Linked DNA regions of Homo sapiens. The protein of the gene in region 1 interacts with the protein of each later gene in a pairwise test. Each region holds a gene or a part of one and is shown in the gene's direction. Other genes may lie near its edges.

What was found.
Region 2: the proteins of AKAP8L (region 1) and SH3RF2 interact in binary tests that used the Homo sapiens proteins (3 or more experiments, as listed by UniProt).
Region 3: the proteins of AKAP8L (region 1) and HDAC3 interact in binary tests that used the Homo sapiens proteins (3 or more experiments, as listed by UniProt).
Region 4: the proteins of AKAP8L (region 1) and ZNF366 interact in binary tests that used the Homo sapiens proteins (3 or more experiments, as listed by UniProt).
Region 5: the proteins of AKAP8L (region 1) and SAXO1 interact in binary tests that used the Homo sapiens proteins (3 or more experiments, as listed by UniProt).
Region 6: the proteins of AKAP8L (region 1) and PEF1 interact in binary tests that used the Homo sapiens proteins (3 or more experiments, as listed by UniProt).
Region 7: the proteins of AKAP8L (region 1) and TIAL1 interact in binary tests that used the Homo sapiens proteins (3 or more experiments, as listed by UniProt).

The regions. Positions count from the first base shown.
Region 1 is NC_000019.10:15,384,223-15,388,430, reverse strand, and holds part of AKAP8L (A-kinase anchor protein 8-like), read left to right. Parts: intron 1-4,208. UniProt on the Homo sapiens protein: Could play a role in constitutive transport element (CTE)-mediated gene expression by association with DHX9. Increases CTE-dependent nuclear unspliced mRNA export.
Region 2 is NC_000005.10:145,998,497-146,002,704, forward strand, and holds part of SH3RF2 (E3 ubiquitin-protein ligase SH3RF2), read left to right. Parts: exon of another isoform or gene 1-4; intron 5-1,561; coding exon 1,562-1,831; intron 1,832-4,208. UniProt on the Homo sapiens protein: Has E3 ubiquitin-protein ligase activity. Acts as an anti-apoptotic regulator of the JNK pathway by ubiquitinating and promoting the degradation of SH3RF1, a scaffold protein that is required for pro-apoptotic JNK activation.
Region 3 is NC_000005.10:141,630,166-141,634,373, reverse strand, and holds part of HDAC3 (histone deacetylase 3), read left to right. Parts: intron 1-4,208. UniProt on the Homo sapiens protein: Histone deacetylase that catalyzes the deacetylation of lysine residues on the N-terminal part of the core histones (H2A, H2B, H3 and H4), and some other non-histone substrates.
Region 4 is NC_000005.10:72,458,526-72,462,733, reverse strand, and holds part of ZNF366 (zinc finger protein 366), read left to right. Parts: intron 1-1,223; 5' UTR 1,224-1,237; coding exon 1,238-2,569; intron 2,570-4,208. UniProt on the Homo sapiens protein: Has transcriptional repression activity. Acts as a corepressor of ESR1; the function seems to involve CTBP1 and histone deacetylases.
Region 5 is NC_000009.12:18,946,029-18,950,236, reverse strand, and holds part of SAXO1 (stabilizer of axonemal microtubules 1), read left to right. Parts: intron 1-2,529; exon of another isoform or gene 2,530-2,660; coding exon of another isoform or gene 2,661-2,692; intron 2,693-4,208. UniProt on the Homo sapiens protein: May play a role in the regulation of cilium length. Stabilizes microtubules at low temperature.
Region 6 is NC_000001.11:31,631,538-31,635,000, reverse strand, and holds part of PEF1 (peflin), read left to right. Parts: intron 1-57; coding exon of another isoform or gene 58-155; exon of another isoform or gene 156-335; intron 336-508; exon of another isoform or gene 509-1,686; coding exon 1,687-1,842; exon of another isoform or gene 1,843-2,362; coding exon 2,363-2,506; coding exon of another isoform or gene 2,507-2,565; intron 2,566-3,463. UniProt on the Homo sapiens protein: Calcium-binding protein that acts as an adapter that bridges unrelated proteins or stabilizes weak protein-protein complexes in response to calcium.
Region 7 is NC_000010.11:119,586,838-119,591,045, reverse strand, and holds part of TIAL1 (nucleolysin TIAR), read left to right. Parts: intron 1-2,797; coding exon 2,798-2,894; intron 2,895-4,208. UniProt on the Homo sapiens protein: RNA-binding protein involved in alternative pre-RNA splicing and in cytoplasmic stress granules formation. Shows a preference for uridine-rich RNAs.

The DNA.
Region 1 (4,208 bases):
ATGTTTGTTGAATTTGACATCTGTTCACTGTCACAGGAAGTTTCTATTGTCTGCTTTTTCATCTGTGCCTGGGTCAGAGTTTCCTTTGGATGTCTCATAATTTTTCACTGTTAACTAGACATCTTAGATAATTTGTTGTGGCAACTCTGGGCACTGATCCCCCACCCACCCTCCCAGGGTCTTGTTACTGTATTTGCTTGTCTATTTGTTTAGTGACTTGCTAGATTTTTTTAGTTAGGTCTCTTTCATTCTCACACAGTATGAAACTGGTGGTGTGTCTTGGAGGGAGGAAGCCATGGGCTCGCTCTTTTTCCCAGACCATACTCAGCTGTTAAACTCTACCAATTGCTGGCTGATTGCTTTATTGTTTTCAACAATGTTTTGGGGCATAGATTGCTGCCCAATCTGATCCAATTAAATTTGGGCTCCTTTATAGGGATTTTTTTCCCCTCCCCTCCCCGCCCCCTCTCCCAGACAAGAGTCTTGCTCTGTTGCCCAGGCTGGAATGCAGTGGCGCGATCTTGGCTTGCTGCAACCTCCACCTCTCAGGTTCAAGCAATTCTCCTGCCTCAGCCTCCCGAGTAGCTGGGATTACAGGCATGTGCTACCACGCCCGGCTAATTTTTGTATTGTTAGTAGAGACGGGGTTTCACCATGTTGGCCAGGCTGGTCTCGAACTCTTGATCTTATGAGCCACCCACCTCAGCCTCACAAGGTGCTGGGATTACAGGCGTCAGCCACTATGCCAGGCCCAAGAGGGATGGTTTTTGAGGTGGTTGTTTGAGATTTATTCTGAACCCAGGGAGTCTGTTCTTAGCTATTTCACTGGTCCTTGTCCTCTTTGGTAACCTAGTTAGCCTATGGGTTAGCTAATATCACTGTCAAATCTACCGGTCCTTCTTTTTTATGGCTGTGTGGTGGGGGAAAAAAAAAAGGACAAAGCTATCAGTGTTTAACTCCAATAAATATTCAGAAAGAAAAAAAAAAGCTATCAATGTCCTTTTAATTTTTTTCCTCCCTAGTCTCCATTGTTTTTGAGAGAGGCCCTAGTCTTGCACTTCCCAACACTCTTGCCAGTGAAGTCAGTCAGTTCCTTTGAGATTGGGAGTTTACTGATTTAAGGCCGTGCTCTCACTGTGGGCAGAATCTCTGAGCCAAGGCTCTGGGGATGGAGACAATGGAGTACCTCTCTCTGAGTGACTCTGCCACTTTAGGAGAGACATGGGAGGAGGTACAGTAGGCTGTAGCCTCCGGTCTTGGTTTGCCTTTCCTGGCATGGGACCTCTGCTTTATGAACAAGCCATGGGTATGTGAGCCCTTATATTCTTAGTGTGCCATGCCCAGGGTCAAGCCTCCATTCCACGTGCGTGTGGCTGGGTAGAAGATAGGAACCGTTCTCTCTCAGCTATGCTTGTCTAGAACTTAGCCTCATCAGCAGGTAGCTGGGGGCGGGATGAGAGATACTGACATCCGGCTGGGTACAGTGGCTCACGCCTGTAATCCCAGCACTTTGGGAGGCCAAGGTGGGCAGATCACCTGAGGTCAGGAGTTCAAGACCAGCCTGGACAACATCGTGAAACCCCATCTTTACTAAAAATACAAAAATTAGCCGGGCTTGGTGGCGGGCACTTGTAATCCCAGCTACTCGGAAGGCTGAGGCAGGAGAATTGTTTGAACCCGGGAAGTAGAGGTTGCAGTGAGCCGATATCACGCCATTGCACTCCAGCCTGGGCAACCAAGAGTGAAACTCCAACTCAGAAAAATAGATGCTGACATTCTGTTCCTCCTGGGAAGATATCATACCCCTTAACTGAGATGATCTGGGTAGATGCGGGCAGACCTGTCTTCTTGGCTGTACTGTCTGGAGTGGAGTTTCCATCACACTAAGCTGGGGGAGGCAGGGATGCAATAGGTTGTGTTTCAGACATCACAACTCTTCATGGAACTGAGTTTTAGTAGCTTTTCCTCATTAAATCTTTCTCATAGGGCTGTATGTCCTTAGGAACATTTTCAGAGACTTTAAATGGTTGTTTTTTAATACTTTTCATCAGTTTCACTAGGGAGTGTTCCAGGGAACGCCTCAGACTGCTATGCTAGAGTCTGTCCTCTCAATATTTAGGAAGCTTCTTAAACCTTAATTCCAAAATTCTGATAAAGATGATACCAAAATGAAACTGTAGATTAGTTTACTATTATTAAAGATATGAAAGTGGGCTGGATTGGCCGGGCGCGGTGGCTCATGCCTGTAATCCCAGCACTTTGGGAGGCCGAGGCAGGCGGATCACGAGGTCAGGAGATCAAGACCATCCTGGCTAACACGGTGAAACCCCATCTCTACTAAAAATACAAAAAATTAGCCGGGCGTAGTGACGGGCGCCTGTAGTCCCAGCTACTCGAGAGGCTGAGGCAGGAGAATGGTGTGAACCCAGGAGGCGGAGGTTGCAGTGAGCCGAGATCGCGCCACTGCACTCCAGCCTGGGCAACAGAGTGAGACTCCTCAAAAAAAAAAAAAGAAAAAAAAGAAAGAAAGTTGGCTGGATATAGTGGCTTATACCTGTAATCCCAGCACTTGGGGAGACTGAGGTGGGAGGATCATTTGAGCCCAGGAGTTCAAGACCAGCCTGGGCAATATAGTGAGACACTGTGTCTATAAAATTAAAAATAAAAAAATTAGCCAGGTACTGGGGCCTGTGGTCCCAGCTACTTGGGAGGCTGAGGTGGGAGGATCACCTGAGCCCAGGAGGTTGAGGCTGCAATGAGCTGTGATCGTGCCACTGCATTCCAGCCGGGGCAACAGAGCAAGACTCTGTCTCAAAAAAATAAATAAAATGAAGTGCTAAATAAAATATTAGTAACTATCAATCTAGTAGTGATCCCTATGTATGATACATTATAAGTAAGGTTTGTTTCTGGAATGGAGGGATGGTTCCCTAAGAAATCTAGCAACAGTTGCCGGGCGCGGTGGCTCATGCCTGTAATCCCAGCACTTTGGGAGGCCGAGGTGGGTGGATCACGAGGTCAGGAGATCGAGACCATCCTGGCTAACACGGTGAAACCCCATCTCTACTAAAAATACAAAAAATTAGCCAGACGTGGTGGCGGGCGCCTGTAGTCCCAGCTACTCGGGAGGCTGAGGCAAGAGAATGGCATGAAAGGCCGGGCGCGGTGGCTCACGCCTGTAGTCCCAGCACTTTGGGAGGCCGAGGCGGGCGGATCACGAGGTCAGGAGATCGAGACCATCCCGGCTAAAACGGTGAAACCCCGTCTCTACTAAAAACACAAAAAATTAGCCGGGCGTGGTGGTGGGCGCCTGTAGTCCCAGCTACTTGGGAGGCTGAGGCAGGAGAATGGCGTGAACTCGGGAGGCGGAGCTTGCAGTGAGCCGAGATCCCGCCACTGCACTCCAGCCTGGGCAACAGAGCGAGACTCCGTCTCAAAAAAAAAAAAAAAGAGAATGGCATGAACCTGGGAGGCGGAGCTCGCAGTGAGCTGATATCGCGCCACTGCACTCCAGCCTGGGCGACAAAGCGAGACTCCGTCTCAAAAACAAAAACAAAAAATCTAGCAATATTATTGGTATAATGCAAACTCTCTTTATGTGCAAATAATGTGATTATGCTCTTAGAAAAGCTGAATGATCCCAGCAAAATGTTCTTAGAATTAATAGAATTTGGTAAGGGGATGGGATTCAAAATAGCGTACAAAAAGTCGTAGTGTTTCTCTATTCTAGTATTAACCAGTTAGAAATTTAAATGGAAAAAAAACTACTTAAAATAACCACACAATGTATGAAATAGCTAAGAATACAGATTTAAGAAGAAAGACTTGAGGGCCAGGCATGGTGGCTCATGCCTGTAATCCCAGCACTTTGGGGAGGCTGAGGCGGGTGGATTGCCTGAGGTCAGGAGTTTGAGACCAGCCTGGCCAACATAATGAAACCCTGTCTCTACTAAAATACAAAAAATTAGCTGGGCGTGGTGGTGGGCGCCTGTAATCTCAGCTACTCAGGGGGCTGAGGCAGGAGAATCGCTTGAACCTGGGAGGCGGAGGTTGCAGTGAGCCAAGATCGCGCCATTGCACTCCAGCCTGGGCAACAAGAGCAAAACTCCGTCTCAAAAAAAAAAAAAACAGGGAGGGAAGAAGAAAGGCTTGAGATCTTTTAAGAACTGCAAATACTCCAAGGATATGAAATAAGACCTTAGCCGGGC
Region 2 (4,208 bases), on another chromosome or scaffold:
GGGAAAAAAAAGTATTATGCAGGTATGCCCCAGAGATAGTGTAGGTTCAGTTTTGGACCACCACAATAAAGCTAATACCATAATAAAGCAAGTCAAACACTTTTTTTTCATTTCCCAGTGCATATAAAAGTTGTATTTGGCTGGGCATGGTGGCTCACGCCTGTAATGCCCTTTGGGAGGCCAAGGTGGGTGGATCATGAGGTCAGGAGATCGAGACCATCCTGGCCAACATAGTGAAACCCCGTCTCCACCAAAAATACAAAAATTAGCCAGGTGTGGTGGTGTGCGCCTGTAATCCCAGCTAGTCGGGAGGCTGAGGCAGGAGAATCACTTGAACCCGGGAGGTGGAGGTTGCAGTGAGCTGAGATCACACCACTGGACTCCAGCCTGGCAACAGAGCAAGACTCCATCTCAGAAAGAAAAGAAAACAAAAAAGTTGTGTTTACACTATGCTGTAGTCTATTAAGTGTGCAATAGCATTATGCCTAAAAAACAATATATCTAACTTAATTTAAAATACTTTATTACTAAAAAAAAAACCTTAATGATGATCTGAGCCTTCAGCAAGTTGTAATCTTCTTGCTGGTGGTGGGTCTTGCCTCAATATTGATGGCTTGTTGCTTCACCTTGCATTTTTATGTTATAGAGACAGCTTCTCTTCTTAAACCTCAGACTATCTCTGCCAGCTTCAAACTTTTTTTCTGCAGCTTCCTCATCTCTCTCAGCCTTCATAGAATTAAAGAAAGTTAGGATCTTGATCTTGATTAGGCTTTGGCTTGAGGGTCTGTTGTGTCTGGTTTGATCTTCTACACAAACCAGTCAAACTTTCTCCATATCGGCAATAAGGCTGATTCACTTACTTATCATTTATGTATTCACTGCAGTAGCACTTCTGATTTCCTTCATGAACTTTTCTTTTGCATTCACAGCTTGACTGTTTGTCACAAGAGGCCTAGCTTTTGGCCTATCTCAGCTTTAGTCATGCCTTCCTCATTAAGATTAATCATTTCTAGCTTTTGATTTAAAGTGAGAGATGTGAAACTCTTCCTTTCACTTGAAAATTTGTAGGCAATTGTAGGGTCATTAATTGGCCTCATTTTAATATTTTTGTGTCTCAGAGAATAGGGAGGCCCAAGGAGAGGGAGAGAGATGGGAAAATGACCAGTTTGTGGAGCAGTCAGAACACAAACATTTATCGACGAAGTTTGCTGTCTTGTATGGGCAAAGTTTGTGGCGCCCCCCGAGACATTACAATAGTAACCTCAAAGATCACTGATTACAGATCACCATAGCAGATATAATAATAATGAAAGTTTAAAATATTTAAAGTTAATAACAGTTACCAGAATGTGACACAGAGACACAAAGTGAGCACATGGTGTTGGAAGAATGGCGCTGATAGACCTATTTAACACAGGTTGCCATAAACCTTTGATTTGTAAAAAACTCAGTATTTGCAAAGCATGTTAAAGCAAAGTACAATAAAAGGGGGAATGCTTGTATCTTCTGTTCCTCTAGACTCTAAGCTAAGTACATATCTTATTGGTCTGTGCCATTGCAGGTGCCTCGAGCAAAGGCCTTATGCAACTACAGAGGGCAGAATCCCGGTGACCTAAGGTTTAATAAGGGAGATATCATCCTTCTCCGGAGACAGCTTGATGAGAATTGGTACCAGGGGGAAATCAATGGCATCAGCGGGAACTTCCCAGCCAGCTCCGTGGAAGTCATCAAGCAGCTGCCCCAGCCGCCCCCGCTCTGCAGGGCCCTCTACAACTTCGACCTACGAGGCAAGGACAAGAGTGAGAACCAGGATTGCCTGACCTTCCTCAAGGTAGGATTCTGGGTGGCCACCAGAGTCACCTGGGACCACGTAGAGACCATAGCAGAACAGAGTTCCTTGTTTAATATTTGCTGATTTTAAAAAATTGTATTTTAAATATATTATATTATTGTTAATATTTTATTCATAAAAATATATTTTGTGCATAAATTACGTATGTATATATGTAGTGCATATATATGTAATATGTGTGTACAATTCAAACTACATGCACGTGAAATCTCTAGAGAAATCTACGAATAAGTGATAGAAGTCTGTAAGCCTTTTTTATTGTAATTACAAAAGTATTCACTCATTCATTCATTCATTTATCCTGAAACCATTGTAGAAACATTTGAAAATACAGATAAGCAAAACAAGGAAAATATTACACCACAATATAGATACAATCACTGTCAACAGCTTGAATAACACATTTGATTTATTCATTCTATCACTTTTGAGCATTTACTCCTTGAAGGCCCTGGGAATAGGACGTGAATAAGTCACAGTCTCTGCTCTCCTGGCAGAGTAATGGGAAGCACCGATACATGGACAGAAAATTAGAAACAATTTGATAACATGCTATGTAAAACTACAGCCTCTACCTCTTTATCATGTATGTGGCAGGGTATTCTTGCAACCAAGTTATGGTTACCTAATTCTACTCATTTACATTCTATCTTGTTGTAAACATCTCATTCAAAACACTCCAGACACACACAATAACATAATCGTGCCTTTCTACATAAATAACCTCTTACAAGATATATTTTTCAAACATTAATTACCCTAAGATTTCTTGTGCCTCTCTTTTTCATTAGATGATTCCCCACCATTTGCAATTAATGACAGTTGTACTAAAGTCTACACTACTTTAACTATCTGTATTCAGTATTTGTTATTCCATAAACATTCACATCTCTCATAGAAACCACAGTTGGAGTTATTTTCATTCTTGACTACTCGTGATAAGTAGATCAAATGTAAGTATAAAAAGTGGCACTGCTACAATAGCTTAGGCAAGGTGTTTCGTTTTACAAAATGTTTTTATTCCACCACTACCAGAAAGGAGATTTACTTCAGGTTTTCTCAAACTAGACAACCTCTCTGCCCTCCATATTTTGAGATAATGATCTTTATTATTGCCGTGGAACCTCAGAGCGAGACTCCTAAGGAAGGTCATTCTACAGCCCAAACAGCAAAGTGTAGACCTAGACTACAGCTAGAGGAAAGTCAGTTCAATTCCACAAATATTTATTATTTACTTTGTGCCAGGCATTAGACACACAGCTGGAGGAAGACATAAGGAAGTATCATCGTCTGCCTCTCTCACCCTTTCTGGGAATTTGTAAACTGGGGCACTTACTTCACACACTCATTCATTTCTTGAGCCCATCCATGTGCCAAGCTGGCCATTGGAGATAAAGTGATGAGTCATTGTTCTTACCTACACTGAGCTGGCAATCTAGTGGAAGAAACAGACATATAAATGGGAAATTATGACAAAGAAACCAAAAGAGAGGATTTGACCCATTCTGGAAGGCTGTGAAATACACAGACTTCTAGGAAATCTCATGGTCTAAACTCAGCATATCCAAATTAAACTCAAGATCTTCCTTCCCAAAGCTGTTCTTTTCCTAGTGCTTTCTAGCTCAGTAAATTGTGTAATTTATTCAACGTCATGTATTTATTCATGCATGCATGCATTCAATAAACTTATTGGCTGACTACTAAAAGGGAGCCACTGTGTTAGGTGCTAGGGAAAACAAAGATTAACAAAACAGACATAGGCCCTGCACACATGAAGTTTATAGTCAGATAGGGTAGACCGACATTAAAGAAATAATAACCTCCTGGCACGGTGGCTCACGCCTGCAATCCCAGCACTTTGGGAGACCGCGGCAGGCGGATCACTTGAGGTCAGGAGTTTGAGACCAGCCTGGCCAACATAGCGAAACCCCGACTCTACTAAAAATACAAAAATTAGTCAGGCGTGGTTGCGCGTGCCTGTAATCCCAGCTACTCAGGAGACTGAGGCAGGAGAATCGCTTGAACCCAGGAGGCGGAGGTTGCAGTGAGCCAAGTTCGCGCCATTGCACTCCAGCCTGGGCAACAGAGCGAGACTCCATCTAAAAATTAAAAAAGAAAGAAAAGGAAGGAAGGAAGGAAGGAAGGAAGGAAGGAAGGAAGGAAGGAAGGAAGGAAGGAAGGAAGGAAGGATAACCTATAAATGCATAATTGCACATGTGTAAGAGCAGGGGCCCCCAACCCCAGGACCACCGACCAGTACCAGTCCGTGGCCTGTGAGGAAACGGGCCGCACAGCAGGAGGTGAGAGGTGGGCAAGTGAGCAAACCTTCATCTGTATTTATAGCTGCTCCCCATGG
Region 3 (4,208 bases), on another chromosome or scaffold:
AAGGGTCTGTGGTAGGACTGAGTATGACTCATTTGAGGAACAGAAAAAAGGCCAAGTGCAGAGTATGAAGAGGAGGTGAACTGAATTGAGGCTAAAGAAATAGGACCTTTTAAAAGCAAACAGCTCTATTATGAATTGGGGTTTTTACCCGTAGAGTAGAGGGAAGCTATCAAAGTGTTTTAAAAAGCAAGGGATCTTAAGAGGGCTATGGGCAGTTAAAAAAACAAAAAAAACAACGAAGGAGTGGTTTGATATCATTAGGTTTACATTGAGCTTGTATCATCCATAGAAGAGTCAGGGTTAGACCCTCTGGGGAAGAGAGTGGACAACAAAGATAAGCCACACTCTACTCTATATCCATGAAAAAATAGTAACCATCACAGCTACCAGTTGCTCAATTCTACTTACTTTTGTTTTTAAACTTTTTATTAGGGAAAATTTCAAAAATTTCTGAAAGTGAAGTAGTGCAGTGACCTCCCATACGTCCATCACCTAGCTTCAACGCTTATGAGCAAATGGCCACTCTTTTTTTTTTTTTTTTTTTTTTTGAGACAGAGTCTCACTCTGTAGCCCAGGCTGGAGTGCAGTGGTGCAGTCTTGGCTCACTGCAACCTCTGCCTCCTGGGTTCAAGCGATTCTCATGCCTCAGACTCCCGAGTAGCTGGGATTACAGGCGCCTGCCACCATGCCTGGCTAATTTTTGTATGTTTAGTAGAGATGGGGTTTCACTATGTTGGTCAGGCTGGTTTTGAACTCCTGACCTCAGGTGATCCACCAGCCTCAGCCTCCAAAAGTGCTGGGATTACAGACGTGAGCCATCGCACCCAGCTGAGCAAGTGGCCACTCTTACTTCATCTATACTCCCTCATGTTAGATTGTTTTAAAGCAGATCCTAGATGTTATATCCTTTTATCCATAAATATTTTATTATGTATCTCTAAATGATACTCTTTTAAAAAAACATAGTATCATTATCAAACCTAAAAAGTTAACAGTGATTCCTTAATGTCATCAAATATGGGATCAATATTCAAATTTCTGCAGTTGTCTCATAATTATTTTGTAGCTAATTTAAATCCAGATCTAAACAAGGTCTATACAGTGCATTTGGTTGATATGTCTCTTAAGACTTTTAATTTGTAGCTTTTCTGTCACCCCCTTGAATTTATTTCTTGAAGAAACCAGGTTGTTGATCCTGTAGAATTTCTTATGATAGCTACCATTTACTGAGTGCTTACTCTGCTAGGTATTATGCCAAGGGTTGCTGGTAAATCCACTTAATTCTCATACCAATCCTTAGATGTATTATAATAGACCTTTTTCTGATGTTATATATAAGTAAATTGAGGTTTGGGAATATCTAGGTAACTTAGCCGTAGTCACATAACTGGTCATTGGAGGGGGCATGATCCAGATCCCGGGTTTTTAAACCACTAATCTGTTTTCCTGAAAGATCTTAATGACAGAAGCAGCCAGGGCTGTAGGATAGAGGCCAACTCATTAGGCTGGCATTGGCACCTTTCCAACTTTATCCCTACACCTCAGCTGCACAGGATGCCTTCCTGGAATGCCCTTAGTTCTCTATTCAACCTCTTCAAGGCCTTCTCAGCCTTCACACCATCTCCATGAAACCTTTCTTGACCACACCAGCCCATAGAGCTCTGTCTTGCACACACTGCACTGCTCATTTGGTGTTCAGTCACATGCTGTTTGGGGAGGTTTCTTGTTTTTTTGTTAGTATTCCTGCTGTTATTTCTGAGCTCACTTTCTAGCTCTGTGAATACAGGGTCAGCCCTTACGCCACACTGGGGTCCCGTAGATGCTCTTTGTGCGATTAGGGAATGCTAATTAGAATACTATCTCTGGGCTATTTATGCTGCATCAGTCTTCCTGTCAAACAAGTTACAGTTGTGCTTATCTGTATTTCCGATGAGAATCAGGAATTTTTCTTCTGTTTAATGAATTTCTGATTGGTTTCAAAGTATTCTAACATAAGTAGCCAAATTGTACTATAGGCCTTTAAATGAAAAAAATAAAAAAGTAGTCCCAAGCCGGGCGCAGTGGCTCACGCCTGTAATCCCAGCACTTTCGGAGGCCGAGGCGGGTGGACCACCTAAGGTCAGGAGTTCAAGACCAGCCTGGCCAACATGGTGAAACCCCATCTCTACTAAAAATACAAAAATTAGTCATGTGTGGTGGCACGTGCCTGTAGTCCCAGCTACTCCAGGAGGCTGAGGCAGGAGAATTGCTTGAACCCGGGAGTTGGAGGTTGCAGTGACCTGAGATTGCACCACTGCACTCCAGCCTGGGCAACAGAGTGAGACTCTGTCTTAAAAAAAAAAAAAAAAAAAAATTCCAGACCTCTCCTTTTCACCCATAAATCCCTCTGCCCAGTGACAGCCACTTTCAGCTCCTTTCCCCTATGTCTTCTGGTATTTACCTTTGGATTTCTAAATAATAATATTAATTGACTGTTATTACTAATCTGTAATCCTTAGGTAATACCTGTTATATACTAGGTACTGTTCTAAGTGCTTTACAGCCATTAGCTTATTTAATCTCAACAACCCCTATGAAGCAGGGTCTATTATTGTTTCCTTTTACCGATGAGGACACTTAAGCACAGAAAGGTTAAACAGTTTGTACAACCTCACTATCATTAGTAGGTGTTAAAGAACCTAGGTAGTCTAGCTCCAGAATCGGTGCTTGTAATCATACTCCCCTCCTGTATTGTCTCTCATTGCTATTTCTTCGTCTGTCAATTTTAGGCATTATCTGTTAAGCTTTTAGTATGGGATATGAGCATTTAGTCTTCTTACACCATCACATTGGCTTCCTTTCCCCTTTCAGCTTCATAGTAATTTAAAAATAAATCAGTATTCTGTGTTTACATTATTATAACTCTGAAAGATTCATTTACTATCAAGCCAAATAGTGTAGTGTGATTTAATCTATTTTCTTCTAAAGCTTTTTGTTTTTCCTGGAGCTGACAATTGCATTATTTTTTCATTTGCTTAGTTTTCTGGTATTAATCACTAATTCTTTCCAAGCCTTTTGAGAAACTATAAAACCCTACAATTCTTGCTTGAACCCGGGAGGCGGAGGCTGCAGTGAGCCGAGATCGCACCATTGCACCCCAGCCTGGGCGACAGAGCAAGACCCCATCTCAAAAAACAAACAAACAAAAAACCCCTACAGTTCTGTTTTTCACATGGTCAAATGTATCAGCTGCACTATTTTTTTTTTTTGAGACCTAAAACTAGGGATTGCCTAAGCCTTTCCTTTTTAAAAAGTCAGGTTTATATAGGTATAACTTGCATACAGTAAAATTAACCTTTTTTAGGTGTAAGAGTTCTGAGAGGTTTGATAGAATATATCAAGGTATAGGGCCAGCGCCGATGGCTCACACCTGTAGTCCCAACAATTTGGGAGGCCAAGGCGGGAGGATCACTTAGGCCCAGGAGTTTGAGACCAGCTTGGGCAACATAGTGAGACCCTGTCTCTACAAAAAAAAAAAAAAAAAAGGTATCAAGGTACAGGAAATTTCCACTACCCAACAAAGGTCACTCACCCTTTTGTAGTTAATAACTTCTCTGCAACCTAGATCCAGCCAACTACTGATAAGATGTCTGTCCTTGTATTTTACCTTTTCCAGAATGTTACATAAATGGAGTCATACAGTAAGTAGGCTTTTGTGTCTGGCTTCAAGCCTTTACTTTTTATAAAGAATAACAATGGTAATAATTATAGCTGACATTTATTAAAGGCTGAGCGGATACTGTATACTGTGCTACAGGCTTTTCGTGGGTTATCTCATCACTGTTTCACATATGTAGGTATACAGTTCTTTCTTTAAAATATGTGACTGAAAAATATTATTGAACATTATGCTAAAATTTGTTACACTGAGAAGACTAAGAAAAACAGAGCTCATGTTTTCTTTCAACTGATTTCCTTTTTACATTGTACTTGAGTACCTGGAAGCTGCTTGCTTCTTTCCGCAGCTAGGATACAAACTCCCTGACAGTTAAGTGCTTCTTTACTTCCCATCCAGTGCCTTGCACAGGGCTTGGTACATGGTTTGGTCCAAAATATTTGTTGAATAAATTTGCAGATAGCCCACGTGTGTAGGAGAGGGAGAGAAGGTTCTTGAAAAATGGAGATTGGAGGAATCTAGGATGGGGAGGGAGATATGGGAAGGGCCCAGA
Region 4 (4,208 bases), on another chromosome or scaffold:
ACTAAAAACACAAAGATTAACAGGGCGTGGTGGCGCACACCTGTAATCTCAGCTACTCAGGAGGCTGAGGCACAAGGGTCACTTGAACCCAGGAGGCGGATATTGCAGTAAGCTAAGATTGTGCCACTGGACTGCACTTCAGCCTGGGCAACAGAGCCAGACTCCATCTCCAAAAAAAAAAAAAAAGAAAGAAAGAAAGAAAGAAAGAAAGAAAGAAAGAAAGAAAACTGGCAAGGAGACGTGAAAAACACTGCCCCTTGTTCAGACTCTAGTCCCACCACCAGCTCTTTCAGACATGCCTATGTCTCAGGACACAGTAACTGGCTGTGTCAGCAGGGGACATGTCAGGCACCACAGGAGTCACCAAGCCTGCCCCTTACTTTGACACCTGTCTGAAAGGAGAGACCCATGTGCGGCTTTATTTCACATAATAAAGGAATATTTCATTCCAGCTTGCTTCAGGTTTAAGAGTGGAATGTGTACATTGCCAGGATGACTTTATAACATTGAGCTACTCAATATGCTTTTTAAAATCATGTTTATGTCATTCACTCCCTATGCCTTAGTAGCACACCTTACTCAGAGTGGATACTCAGAAACGATTAGATCTGAGTTAAGCATTAACATCCCTTCTCCTATGAGGCTTTGAATATCCTCATTTTCCAGCAGCAAAGGCCCAAGCAAGGGAGTAGCAGTGAAAATTGGTTTCCTTACACAAAGAAAAGACCCTAAAAGTCACTTTCCAATCACCATTAGTAGATGTAATTACAACTCAGATTGAAAAGCTGCAGCAGAATGGGTCTAGTGCTCACTCCTTCAGTGAGTACCTATGTAACTTGAGAATGTCATTTCATTTATCTGGACTTTGGTACCCTGATCTTAAATGGGGACAATGGCCAGATGAGTTCTCAGGTTTCTTCCCAAACTAGTCCACTTCCCTTGCTACCATCACCCCTTGTGGTTTTGTGGCTGGATTTACACTGGAGCCCAATTTGATTCAGCCCTAGGGTCACCCCAAGAGGCCAGTGCTATCCATATTGATAACTGGGTTTGCAAGGAGAAAGAAAAGCGATATTTTGAACAGCCCTAGGATAAATGAGGGTCCATATTAAGCAAGTACTACTCTTCATAAATTAGTACTGATAAATAGCCATAATCCTTAAGGAAAAAGAGAATTTTAAACAAAACCAAACCAAAACACACAAGTTTCTTTCTCTTTAAAGGAAAATTGCCAAGGATGCAGAAGGAAATGAAGATGATCAAAGACGAGGATGTGCATTTCGACTTGGCTGTGAAGAAGACCCCCTCCTTTCCCCACTGCCTGCAGCCAGTGGCTTCTCGGGGAAAGGCTCCCCAAAGACACCCCTTCCCGGAAGCTCTCCGAGGGCCATTTTCCCAGTTTCGGTATGAACCTCCCCCAGGAGACCTAGATGGGTTCCCCGGGGTCTTCGAAGGAGCAGGGTCTAGGAAACGGAAGAGCATGCCCACAAAGATGCCCTATAACCACCCTGCAGAAGAAGTCACCCTCGCCCTCCACTCAGAGGAGAACAAAAACCACGGCCTTCCCAACCTCCCTTTGCTGTTCCCGCAGCCCCCGCGCCCCAAGTATGACTCTCAGATGATCGACCTGTGCAACGTGGGCTTCCAATTCTACCGCAGCCTGGAACACTTTGGGGGCAAGCCCGTCAAGCAGGAACCCATTAAGCCCAGCGCCGTGTGGCCCCAGCCAACGCCCACTCCATTCCTGCCCACGCCCTACCCCTACTACCCCAAAGTCCACCCGGGCCTCATGTTCCCCTTCTTCGTGCCCTCGTCCTCGCCCTTCCCCTTCAGCCGGCACACCTTCCTGCCCAAGCAGCCCCCGGAACCTCTGCTGCCCCGGAAAGCCGAGCCCCAGGAGAGCGAGGAGACCAAGCAGAAGGTGGAGAGGGTGGACGTGAACGTGCAGATCGATGACAGCTACTACGTGGACGTGGGCGGCTCGCAGAAGCGCTGGCAGTGCCCCACCTGCGAGAAGTCCTACACCTCCAAGTACAACCTGGTCACCCACATCCTGGGCCACAGTGGGATCAAGCCGCACGCGTGCACGCACTGCGGGAAGCTCTTCAAGCAGCTCAGCCACCTGCATACCCACATGCTGACCCACCAGGGCACGCGGCCCCACAAGTGCCAGGTGTGCCACAAGGCCTTCACCCAGACCAGCCACCTGAAGCGCCACATGATGCAGCACAGCGAGGTGAAGCCGCACAACTGCCGCGTGTGCGGCCGCGGCTTTGCCTACCCCAGCGAGCTCAAGGCCCACGAAGCCAAGCACGCCAGTGGGCGCGAGAACATCTGTGTGGAGTGCGGCCTCGACTTCCCCACCTTGGCCCAGCTGAAGAGACACCTCACCACGCACCGGGGCCCCATCCAGTACAACTGCTCCGAGTGCGACAAGACCTTCCAGTACCCGAGCCAGCTGCAGAACCACATGATGAAGCACAAGGACATCCGGCCCTACATCTGCTCAGAGTGTGGCATGGAGTTTGTGCAGCCGCACCACCTCAAGCAGCACTCCCTCACCCACAAGGTACTGCGGGGCCTCTGGTGGGGCGGACGGGGCCTTGGGAAGAGGAGCGGGGCCCTGAGCAGAGCACTGGGGAGCAGGACGCCTGTGCCGCTCTGCACCTTACCCCGAGGAGGTGGGCAACCCCGGACAAGCGGTCCCTTGGCCGAGCCCTGAGGTCCTTCCTCACGTTTAAATAAGAGAGAACGATTCTCGACCAAGCCCTTTGCCCCAGCAGCCTTCTAGACTCTAAGGTAGGCCTAGAAATAAATAATGCAGACATTTGCAGAGGAGATGAGGAAGGATGCTCCCTAGCCTCCAAGAATCTTGCAGATTCGGTTTCTAGAAACTTCATCCAAGGCACTAGCATGAGTAAGTCATCAGACCCTAGATCAGCTCTGTGCCTGGGATGTGCCAGGGAGCACCTTCTGGATAATTCTCTTCGTCTTGTACTGTTGAAGCAGTGGAAAACTTTTTGGATTGTTTTCTCCCTCAACTGTGAGACCTGCTTCATATGCAAGTTCTCCAAGGGAAGCAGAGCTTGGCTGAGGCCGGCAGGGCCTATACCTCCCTGCGTTGGACCCGTGCCTAGCTGGGTGAAGTGCCCTGTGGTTTACATTGTAGGAGGCATGAGAAAGCATCCTTCTCTGTTTGGTTTTGTTTGATCTTCTCTGTGCTCAGGTCTTCAAGGGGAAATACAGGCCCAAGAGTCTGAGTTCAGCCCAGTTTGCAACCATAGCCCTGGAGTCATTCAGGCTGAACTAAAACAAGGCCCTAGTGGTGTTCCTGAAATCTTACCCCAGCTAAAGTATGGAACCTGCTCTGAGCCTCCGAGAGGGAGTTTTGCCCCCACTGACTCCCACTCTCACACCCTTAACCTCAAGTGGTTTTCTTGGCAGGAAAGACTTCTAGCAAGCCAGAGTTTCTAAAGCATTCTTTAATTCTGAAAGGTCAGGAGAGGACTTTGCCCAGCCAAGATAATGTTTCTGCTGTGCTATAATACGTTTCACTTCTTAGGTTAGGACAAAACACAGGGTATTTTCTGGCTCTGCCACAGAGATGAAATGTGTGGCTGCCTTGTGGGCTCTGCACAAACAGCTCCTGCCCTACAAAAGGTACCTGTAGATACTATCCAGAGGGGAGTCGCCTGCCAAGTGCAGGAACCATCAACAAAGGACCCAGACTGGGATTCAGCCGTAAAGGGGACCATTCGCTAACTTCAGGGGCTCCTTTATATGTGGGAAAGGAATCAAAAGTGCATTTTAGAGCATATGAAGATCCTGTAAGATGGTAGAAAATGAAGTCAAAATGGGAGAAACAGCCTGGTGTCTGAAATAAGTTTCATTTGAATTTTAATTAAAACAAAATACACTTTAATGAGAGGTGTCAGCAAACAGTGAGAGGTAGTATTTGTTGAACACTTGCTATATGACAGGTGTTTCACTCTTCATTTAATCCTCATTTACTTCTCAACAACTCTAAGAGCTACTCCCGATCTGCAGTTGAAGACACTGAGGCATGGGAGGTCACTCAGGAATCTCTGACACAGGCACCTGTGCCTTGGCCACTCTACAGTGAACACTTCCTCTTTTCCACCTGCTTCCCTGTTCGCACCCCTGACCACCTGACAGGCTCCGACTCTGTGATTCCACTGATCCTATCA
Region 5 (4,208 bases), on another chromosome or scaffold:
AATGTTTTGCTTTTAAATTATTCTTGACTCCCAAACTAAGATTGTTTAGCTCTAGGTCTGTGCAGAGGCTGAGCCACATGGTTCAGTATATTAGCGTTGCAGAGGTGTTTCTACTGAGGGGGTGCAGAAAAGTTATCAGTTCAGGGTTGGTCTATAAGCAAGGCTCTTGCAGAATCTGCCATGGACAACTCAGTTAGTGACCTGTGACTGGTGATCTAGTAGAGTGGAAACATCTTTGAGTGCAGTTGGGCAGTCTCAGATTGTATAGTTTTGTCCTTAGCTGAGCCCTGAAAGATTGATGTGTTCTCTGCCTTCCCGGTTCCTCATCCCTAAAGGGCAGGGTTGCTGTGAGGTGGAGATGATGGTGAATGTTGACTGTTCCAGCACAATGCTTGCACATCGGTGCCTCAGACCTGGTGACTTTTCTTCCTATTGCTCCCTTTTGCTTCATGATTTTGTGCTAGTAAAGGTCCCAGATGGTCTAGGTGAAGCAGAACCATTCTAATTCATTCTGCCTTCAGGTTTTCTCCAGAATAGGACTGGAAACATCTGAGACTGTGAGTTGGAGGTGCTCTTCTCTACACAATGCTGCCATCTTCTAGATCCACGGGAAGTCCAGTCTGGGTAATGGGGCAGGAGCACCCACAATGGGAGAAATGAGGCCAAAGGATTCCTGAGCTTAGTGGAAACCACTGGACAGGGGCTTGAGAATGAGAGGGAGTTGAGGGCCTTGTCTGATGCTTGACTTGAATCAGGCCACTTAAAAAAAATTTTTTTTTTAAAACAAGGTTTCCTTCTGTAGCCATGGCTGGAGTGCAATGGTGTGATCATCGCTCAGTGCAGCCTCGAATTTCTGGGCTCAAGTGATCCTTGCCCCTCAGTCTCCTAGTAGCTGGGACTACAGGCATGGACCACCATGCCCAACTAATTTTTAAACTTTTTGTAGAGACAAGGTTTTGCTATATTGCTAAGGCCAGATGATTATATTTATTCTAAGCATGTATCTTAAATGATTTGGTTTAAGTGCAGTGTTTGTGTGTCCTGATGTATTAAAACATTGTAGTTTATGCTGCTGTTTTTTCAACCTATGACTTATTAAACAATATGAACACTAAAGTTTGGGCTTCATTTTGCTGGGAAAACAGTATTCTTTGTCTCTGAGAGTCTAAAGACCATAATAAGAAGTGTGAACCATTTCTGAGCATTGCTTTTGTTTTAGGAAACCCTGGTCAACACCAAGTAAGAGTCCTAGGCACATGTATAAGGGACATGTAATCGGTAGGAAAGGGTGAGAGTAGTACTGAGGGGTGGCTTGCAAATATCTTGTTCGGTCTCCAGGTGTGGGTCTTTTTATCTCTTTATATCCAATTTGCAGGAAATGAAGAAGACTTTGTGAGATGTCTAGTTGGCTTCAGACACTGATATATTTCCTATCCTGAAAGTATAGACAGGGATGCTTTGAAGGTTGGTTGTTGCAGGTTGCTTTGTTAGCTGCCCAAAGCTTAGGAGAATGGGGACAAACCCTTGGTCTGGGGCGGAAGACCTGCCCCAACACCTAGCTCTGAGGCCCCCAGATGCAACTCCAGGTACCCTCCCTCCTCCTGATGGTGCTTCGCTAAACAAAAACTTACCCTCTGACCTGTCCTAAATTATCCTTGCCTTGTGTCACTTAAAACAATAAACATATCACCCAGAAGGCCCCTCTGCCCCTGCCGGAGTCAGAGTAACAATAAATACCATGTACATCAAATGTGGCTAAAGTAGAGGAAAGCAGATTCTGCAAGAATTTCCAAAATAAGCTGTTAATGAACATAAGGGCCTTAAAAAGAAAAAGTGGCAGGATCAAGGTTGTCCACAGGGAGGAAAAGGAGCAGATATGAATCTCTTTTTATTTCCTACCCTAAAAAGAGAAGTAAAGGGGAAATGAGTAGAAGACATCTGTGTTCTCTTTTCTACCACAATTTCATTATTTCTCAACCCTGTGCCTGCCATGATAGGCACTACTGTTCATAGACCGAGAACAAAATTATGCCACTGTCAGGAAATGTAGGGAAGCTACCATCTGGGTGTTCCCCTAGAGGCTTACAGGGGAAGGGATGCGTCAGCCCAGTGTCTGCACAGCCCAGTGTCTGCACACCCTTGTGTCTGTGCAGATTGTCGTCACCCCTCTGCTCTTAGCACTCTTATTACTGGAACATCCCACCCACTTCTTTATCTAAACAGTGACCCTGCTTAGTTTCTGAGGTTGGACATGAGGCTCCCACCTGCTGAATGAAAAAGTCACGTGGTCCAGGGCTTTGCTGGGTTTGGTGATTAAGCCCAGACACAAAAAAACACCTGGTTTCTGGAAAGGTTATCATCCCAGCGTGAGGCATGATTATAACTGCACACAACTCTTACTGACCATAAATCTTGGGGATTTACAGCAGGTGCCATGAGGGGAATGCTTGTGATTTCCAGCCATTCTTAGTGTGAAACTCTTTCTTGCAGCCCTTGGTAATTCTCTGGTGTAGAATCTGCCTTTACTTCAGATAGACCTGAGATCAATTTATGAATAAGAGGTTTGCACTTCCAGCCTCATTTCCCCATAGGCATGTCACCATGTAAAACACTTGGATCCCAATTTGAGACATTCTGTTAGCTAAACCAGCTCGCTAAAGATGGGCAAAATGAGCAGCATCAGAAGAAAGAGGTGAGTCTTCAATGGTGTTAGACGTTTATCCTAAAGGGAGTGGGACCATGGGTAGAGTGGAATGGAGGCACAGAGTGAGGAGATAGAATTGAGTTCAGACTTGATGGGTGTGGCTGAAAGGCAGACGGCAGGGAATTGGTAGCATCGACTCTATCACTTATTTGCAAGACTCCTTGGTAAACCAAGGAGAGTAAGGGAGGGAAGAGCTAAGAGAGAAAGGGCATTTAGTATCCTCCCCAAAGGTCAGGAAAGAAACAAGAGAGTTAGTAGCAGGCTTGAGTCTTGCACTGCCCATTGAATTTTATATATATATTTTTTGTTCAAAGAGACACCTGACTCTCTTACTCAGAGCTGTACCACTGGGCATATACTTAGCCTCCATAGCCTGGGCCTGAGAATTAGTGTGAACACAATGTAGGTAGAGTTCTCGGCACTGGACTTGCTTGGGCAATCTCAGAGCCTTTGAATTGTCTATACTGTATTTCTGAGTAAATTTGTAGACATTTTGGCCATTATTTCTTCAAGTAATTTTTCTTTCACGGATGCTCTGTTCACTTCTTTTCCCCAATCTTTTCTCCCCGTCCTCTGTTCTTCAGATTGGATAGTTTCTATTAACCTAGTTTCAACTTCAAGTTTTTCTCCCTTATCTCCATTTTGTGATTAAGGCCATCCAGTGAATGTTCTACTTCACATATTTTGCAGTTTCAGAATTTGCATTTGATTCTTGTTTTATATAGTTTCTATTTATTTTACCTAATTTCCTATCCTTTAATTCATTATGGCCTTACTTTGCTTTCCTTAATGAGCATGGTTTAAAAAGCTACTTTAAAATCCTTATCTGCTAATTCCAATGTCTGGTCTGCTTGGAGTTGGTCTCCATAATTATCTTTTTTTTTTCTTTTTTGAGCATGGGTCAGATTTTGGGTTGATTTTTGTACAGTGAGAATGTTGCTACATTGTGGACACCTTAGATGTTTGTTTGCATTCCTCTAAAAAGTGTTTTTATCTTTGGCAGGCAGGTAACCTGATTTGATTTACAATGCAAACTCTGTGTCTTGGGTGGCCGCTCAAATCTCACTTCAGTTCTTTAGCTTGGAATCTACCCCATATATGTGAGGTTATGCAGAGATTTGGGCCCAGTTTATGTACAGAATTTAGGGCTTCCTGTCTTTGACTCTCTCATTTCCAGGTTTCTTTCCTCATTTTGCAGCATCCGTGGTTGCTTCAAACTTGGTCCTCTTTTTTTTTTTTTTTTTTTTTTTTTTGGTGAGATGAAGTTTTGCTCTTGTTGCCCAGGCTGGAGAGCAGTGGCACGATCTCGGCTCACCGCAACTTCCTCCTCCCGAGTTCAAGCGATTCTCCTGCCTCAGCCTCCCGAGTAGTTAGGATTACAGGTGTGTCCCACCACATCCAGCTAATTTTGTATTTTTAGTAGAGATGGGGTTTCTCCATGTTGGTCAGGCTGGTCTCATACTCCTGACATCTGGTGATCCGCCTGCCTTGGCCTCCCAAAGTG
Region 6 (3,463 bases), on another chromosome or scaffold:
TGTCAGCAGCTGTTAGCTGGCTGTTGAGTTTCTGTTCCCTGTGTCTTTTTCATTCAGGGATACATGCTGAAGGAGCAGCTCCTGTTTGGGATATGTTATCTTTGTGGCAGAGAGAAGGAGCAGGAGAGCTAGCAAGAATGCACAATGCCTCTTAAAGCTTCTCTGAAGTACTGTATGTCTTGCCCACTTGCATTCTTTTGGCCAGAGCACCCCCTGATCAAGACTGACATCAGTAGGATGGGAAAGGATGCCCCTCTGCAAGCCACCAGGCAGTGGGAGAGGATGTACAATGCTCTTATAGGGAAGGGGAGATTAGCAAGTAATCTAATAATAGATTATTGAACTGGCCTTTTAAACCATTGTACCATATTAGTACAATGTCTGTGGGTGTGCAGACTGTGTCTCCTGGCTAGAGATTATTAGCCAGGAGACGATAATGTAGCCTACCATGGGGAGAAACTCAGTTTAAATATCCGTTTCTCTGTGAAAATATCTCAGAAGACACACATTCCAGGCTCTTTGCTGAGGATTTTATTTTGCTGTTATCTCATTTAATCATCACAACAATTCTGGGGAAATGGGTTCATTTTAGAAATGTGAAAATCATTACTCAGAAAATTGTACATTTTGCCTAAAGTCACACAAGCTAGTAAGGATCAGATCCAGGGTTTGAATCCAGGTCTGCTTTGATTCCAAAGCCTGAGCCCTTCTATACAAACTACACAGTTCAAACATGTCACAGAATCTCTCCTGCCCTGGGGCTGTGGCCCTTGCTCCCCTATGACACCGATGTTTTAGGAAGATGGCTAGAACCTGCCCGGATTTTTCCAAGGAAGTCAGACTAATCCCTAAGTCAGGCATACCTTTTTCCCTCTGTCCTTACTGGGCTTTGGTACTAGGCAGTGGTTTCTGTCCTCCACAACTGCCCATGGCTGTCTTTGTGTGAAGGGACCCCGATTGTGGCCAGTTAACTCAGTGTCCTAAGGTAGACAGACTTACCAGCTTCTACACTGTTTTTTTTGGGTTTTTTTGTTTTTTTTTTTTTGAGATGGAGTTTCGCTTTTGTTGCCCAGGCTGGAGTGCAATGGCGTGATCTTGGCTCACCACAACCTCCACCTCCCGGGTTCAAGCGATTCTCCTGCTTCAGCCTCCCCAGTAGCTGGGATTACAGGCATGTGCCACCATGCCCGGCTAATTTTCTATTTTTAGTAGAGACGGGGTTTCTCCATGTTGGTCAAGCTGGTCTCAAACTCCCGACCTCAGGTGATCCGCCTGCCTCGGCTTCCCAAAGTGCTGGGATTACAGTCGTGAGCCACTGTGCCTGGCCACTTCTACACTTTTATCTACCACCCATTCCCCCATCTCGCAGTTTACCTTTTCCAGAGAATTCTTGAAATGCTACAGGGGTACAGGTCCCCGTTCCTTAAAAACATAAAATCAATTAAGAGTAGTGTCTGGAACACTATACGAGAACTCCAGAGGACTCATGGAATAGAAATCAACTGCAAATACTCATGAATCTTCACTGAAGGTCCTCTTCCATCAGAGTAAGAATGTCAGCTTGATGGAAGACAGGGAAGGTGAATTTGTGAAGCTTCGTGTGTAGGAGAAACCTGTAGCCAGGAAGTTACTGAGGCTGGCCCTTCCTGGCATTTCTGTTGATGGCCTTCACACCCCTTCCTCCAGGTGGCGCCCCTCCCAATGTGGATCCTGAGGCCTACTCCTGGTTCCAGTCGGTGGACTCAGATCACAGTGGCTATATCTCCATGAAGGAGCTAAAGCAGGCCCTGGTCAACTGCAATTGGTCTTCATTCAATGATGAGACCTGCCTCATGATGATAAGTGAGTCTCCGCCTTGCCCTTGGGCCTGAGCTGGGGCAGAGCCACCTGATAGTGGACAGTAGGTGGGTAGGTGGGTGGGTGGACATTCTGAAGAGAAATTCATTGACCAGGGAGGACTGTGGGGAGGAAGCTAGGTTCAGGGTGAGATCCCCTAGACTGAGAGCTCTTTTCCTGAGATCTTTCTTAAGTTCTAGACCCTGCCTAGTTACAGGTTAACTTAGTTTCCTCTTCTGTAGAATGGTACTCCCTCCCCTGTAGGAAACAGCAGGGAGGGGTCAGGTGCCAAGCCTGCAGAGAAAATGCAGTTCTGGATGGGGTGGGGCTAAAGGTGTCCAGAGTAGGAGGACGGTGCAACGCTTGATGTGGGTGTCTCAGGTGCAGGCATCTGGGCCTCAGGGCTTGGTTCTGTGAAGTCGCCTACTCCAGCCTGGAGAGAAGGGCTGCCTCAATGGGTCCTGAGGGGGACCCTTGGCCTTCAGTCTTGAAGCCTTCCTCCCCTCCTTTCCCTCCTCACCTTCAGACATGTTTGACAAGACCAAGTCAGGCCGCATCGATGTCTACGGCTTCTCAGCCCTGTGGAAATTCATCCAGCAGTGGAAGAACCTCTTCCAGCAGTATGACCGGGACCGCTCGGGCTCCATTAGCTACACAGAGCTGCAGCAAGGTGCGGGTCATGGCCGGGGCACGATGGGCAGGACAGAGCTAGACTCTTCTCTTTACACCCTAAGATACAACAAAGGGGTTTCCTCTTGTTACCGAATGTCCACCTGCACTACAAAATGCTGTTCTCAGTGCAGGCCTGCATCCCTCACCCCTTCTTTGACCCAGCTGGGGCACTGAGCCAAGAGCCAGGGCAAGGAAACACCTGGGTCCAGAATCAGGGCTGGACCCTGGAGTGCTGGGTGAGACGGCCCCAGCCACAGGGAGCCTTAAGGATGGAAACTTGGCACCTTAAGGACTATGAGACCAGTGTGTGTGGCTTGGGTGACTCCTTTCTCTCCAGTTTCTAGCATGTAGAATGGAAAGAGCCCTGAACAGGGCTCAGAAAGATGGGTCTGTTGCCACCTCTGCTAGTGGACAGTTTCTTTCCCAACTTTTGGGACCCTGAGCACTCTAAAAGTTGCAGTTGGGGAAGATGACCTGAGGCCACAGCCCCAGGTCTGGTTCCAAACTGACTGTGTAAGGCAGAAGGCCACAGTTTGGGCTCAGGCAGGTTAGTAAGAGGTTGGGGGAGGACCCAAGAGGGAGCTTTGCCACCCAGGAGGGAGAAAGGGCTCCCCAGAGAGTCTAGTCCTTTGCCCAGGCTGTGGATTTCATTCAGACTAAGGAGGTCTGTGGGCAGGAGTGAGTGCACCACATCTGCCCCCAGTAAAAGGGAGGGGAGATGACCTATAGTAATCACCTACTCTTGCCAGCTTTTGTCGTGGATATTAGTAAGGGTGATATTAACCACAACAAAACGTATTTACTGAATGCTTGCTATTTTTAATAGGCTTATGTAATTCATTCTTCCCATGTGCTAGGTACTATTTATAATTCCACACCCTTCAATGAAGAATCCCTTATAATCTCCCTTTTACCGGTGAGAAAACTGAGGTTTAGTGTAGGTAACCTGCCCAAG
Region 7 (4,208 bases), on another chromosome or scaffold:
TTTTCCTGAAGAAATTGATGTTTAAACAGTAATGGAAATTTAAAACTATTTAAATCATTTAAAATGTGTTATATTAAAATGATAATTCTATTTTAATTTTGTTATTAGCTAGCTTCAATATGTGAAAACCAGTTTTATCCATCCTTCTTTTCTCTTAGAAGTGAGCTAACTAGCCCTTTAGGCAAGGAGCATAATGTTTAGAAGCTCAAGATCACTTGTTCGTTTCTTTCTTTCTTTCTTTCTTTCTTTCTTTCTTTCTTTCTTTCTTTCTTTCTTTCTTTCTCTCTTTCTCTCTGTCTCTCTCTCTTTCTCTCTTTCTTTTTTATTTATTTTTTTGAGATGGAGTCTCACTCTGTCGCCCAGGTTGGAGTGCAATGGTGCAATCTCGGCTCACTGCAACCTCTGCCTCCCAGGTTCAAGCGATTCTCCTGCCTCGGCCTCCCGAGTAGCTGGGATTATAGGTGCGCGCCACCATGCCCGGCTAATTTTTGTATTTTTTGTGGAGACAGGGTTTCACCATGTTGGTCAGGCTGGTCTCAAACTCCTGACCTCATGATCCGCCTGCCATAGCCTCCCAAAGTGCTGGGATTACAGGCGTGAGCCACCATGCCTGGTCACTTGTTCATTTTTCTTACAGATAGGTCTACTCTGTACAAAAAGAAATCATTTCAGAGATACAGGCTCACAAACCCCTATGAGTTAAGAAGGGGCAAGCAGCCTATCGCTGGCTCATAACCCAATAACCTTTTAGTCCTGCTGGAAAAAGTATGTCACTACATTGGCCTGCTGATGGATCAGCTCCTTAATTACGTGGAAAAGGTGGCATAGTGGACGTAAAACAGTTTGTCACTTGTTTAGTCCTCTAGTTAGGTAATATTGGATGTGTGTTTCAATTTTAGAGCAGGTACACTAAGATTATTAGTACTCATTGCAATAAAATTCTTAACTGGAAAATCGCTACTAATTCTTAATTGGATCTTTTAAGTTTTTTACTTAACCTAAGCTTTCTCAGTCTATTTTTCCCTTTGAGTATTCCATCTTAAAGCATGTTGTGTATTTAATGTGGCAGCTATGTTGCAAGTCTTATTTTGGTCTTAATACTCAGTTTCCAGATGTAATATATTACAAGTAGAAAAAGAAATCTACTTTCCAGAATGAACTTTGTTAAATTTTACAGATATTGTTTGGTTTATGAGGTTGTTCATAACAGATGCAAATTTGAGGAATTATGTGTAGAATACCAGAAAGACTTTAGTGTTTGGCAATTTATTTAGATAAATTAAGATAAATCCATAGTACAAGACATAAACCAAGGTGGTCCTCTCTGTGTGATGAAGTAGCATTTTTTTCTTTTCTTTTTTAAACTTTCCTGTATTTAAAATCTTTTACACAAAACACATTCAATTGTAATTAGGAAAAAAAACCCAAATTTTTAAGTGTCCATAGTCAAAAGTATGCCTGGATTTGTCTTAGTTTTTCTCTGAATTTCTTAAGAAATCTTTGTATTAGCTTTTTTATCTACATTAAGATATATTTTGTTGGCTGGGCATGGTGGCTCACTCCTGTAATCCCAGCACTTTGGGAGACTCAGGCAGGTGGATCACTTGAGGTTAGGAGTTTGAGACCAGCCAGGCCAACATGGTGAAACCCCGTCTCTACTAAAAATACAAAAATTAGCCGGGCGTGGTGGTGCACGCCTGTAGTCCCAGCTACCTGGGAGGCTGAGGCAGGAGAATCGCTTGAACCTGGGAGGCGGAGGTTGCAGTGAGCTGAGATCATGCCACTGCACTCCAGCCTGGGTGACAGAGTGAGACTCCATCTCAAAAAAATACATATATATTTTGTTGATTCTGATGCATTTTAGACTAGGAAATTTTATATTTTACCCTGCTCTCCTAAAATGAAACAGTGAAGACATCATTGCAAACAACCTTACTCAGCCAAAAACAAAACAACAAAAACCCTCCACCCTCTGTATGTTTTACTATAACTTTAATTCTGTTCTTTGTTCATGTAATTGCTTTGGTTGGGAATCTAAGATAAACTCACTTTATGTTTAATATCCTATTACAATCAGATGTTTTAATGAATTAGTATTTGTTGTATGTGTGTGTGTGTTATAAATTATTTTTAATTAGAAATTGTAGTTATCTTGAGACCAGTTTAAAATTTTAACAATTAGAATAAGATGAGAAAATGATATCCAGGGTACAGAATAATAATGCCATTGGGGTATACAAGATCACATTGATTTGTTCTTTAAATGTCTTTCAGAGTGGTATTTTAGTGGCCTAAGAACAATTGTTGCTTTCCTAAATAAGGGTTAATCTTACTTTCATAGGATCAGGTTTAATTGGAGAAATTTTGTTGAAAACAGAGGAAGTTAAAATGAAATAAAAGGTGGCCGGGCGCAGTGGCTCACGCTTGTAATTCCAGCACTTTGGGAGGCCAAGGCGGACAGATCACCTGAGGTCAGGAGTTCAAGACCAGCCTGACCAATACGATGAAACCCTGTCTCTACTAAGAATACAAAAATTAGCCAGGCATGGTGGCATGCGCCTGTAATCCCAGCTACTTGGGAGGCTGAGACAGGAAAATCGTTTGAATCTGGGAGGCGGAAGTTGCAGTGAGCTGAGATCATGCCATTGCACTCCAGCCTGGGCAACAAGAGCAAAACTCCATCTAAAAAAAAAAGAAAGAAAGAAAGAAAGAAAGAAAAGGTGATGAATTAGATGATAACACATTAGAGCCAGAGCTAAAGGAAAAATTGCTGATAACGTATTTTTTTCTTGTGCAGATACGTAGGTAACCTTTCCAGAGATGTGACAGAAGTCCTTATACTTCAGTTGTTCAGTCAGATTGGACCCTGTAAAAGCTGTAAAATGATAACAGAGGTAAGATCTTCCCAGTTCCATGTGCTGACAATTAGCATGATGGGTTGATTAGCATGATTTTAAAATTTCATTGTAAGCCTCAAGTTATTCTGGTGGAGAGATTTGTGTTGTGTTGACTTATTACTTTGATTTGGCTGACAAACTAGGCTTAGAATGGAGTTTTATTTAAGAGGGCAAAGTTTCCGTGCTGTTAAGCTCAAACGGTCATTCTTCATGGTGTGGTTATCTTGAAGTGATTCTGCTTTCAGAACATTATTAGAGCTCATTTCAGAATGGTGAAAAATTGGAAAGTATTTCATACAATTCCAATAAGAATGTTAACGATTTAGACAGCATGTGTTCATGTGCGAGAACACGAAGTTATTATGTGTGTAGTGTGCAGCACCGTTCGTCTCGTGTGTCTGTAGCAAATACTTACCTTTTTATACTTTCCTGCTAAGACTGTAGCAGCACCCAATTAGTCATGTTTTAGGCTTTTCTTCCTTGTGTTTTTGTTCATTGATCAGCTTTCTTTTTTTTTTTTGGACTATTTCCTATGTACTAGATACTGCAGTAAGTGCTAGAGATACACTGGTGAATAAAGATAGTTCCTTGGCCCAGAGAATTTTACAGTTTAGTAGGGAGACAAAGGAGTTAGCAGGCACTTAGGAAGTAGGATAATAAATGCTCTAGAAGCAGACAACTTAAAGTGCTGTGGGAGCAAATGTGTATCCAGTGCAGCCTTAGGTCAGTGAGCGGCTTCTTGGAGGACTCACTGCCTAGGCGGAAACCTTGAAAGGATAGTAGTACATACTGGCTAGAAAGGAATTGAGGGAAGAAGGGATTCCAAATAAAGGGAACTTTGATCCAGGTTGGTAGGGAGAGCAGGAGTGCTTGAGACAGAGAGGGAAAAATAGAACCCGTAGCATGGTTGTAGTTAAAATGGAATTAGTCGTAAGAGATGGCAGGAGTTTATGGAAAGGGCTAGAAACTGTGCTAAAGAGTTTGTTTTATCCTGAAACGGAGAACTGTTAAAAACCTTTAAAGTGCATTGGCCTTTTGATTGTCTTTCCCAAGTAATGACAATCATCATTTTGTTCTGGTGTATTATATTTTTCCTTCCTGCCTTTAATTATTTATTTGTGCTTTCATCGATCAAAAATTTCCTTTGCACTAGGCACTATACAAGGTACTGGAGATATAATGGAGAGACAGCCAAATGAGTTTCCCAAGCAAATAGGGATGTAAGCCATGAAGAGAATAAAACAGAGTTCTGTGATGATTGGAGGGTTGGTGCTATATAGGCTAGGTGATGAGAGATGTCACCTCTTTGAG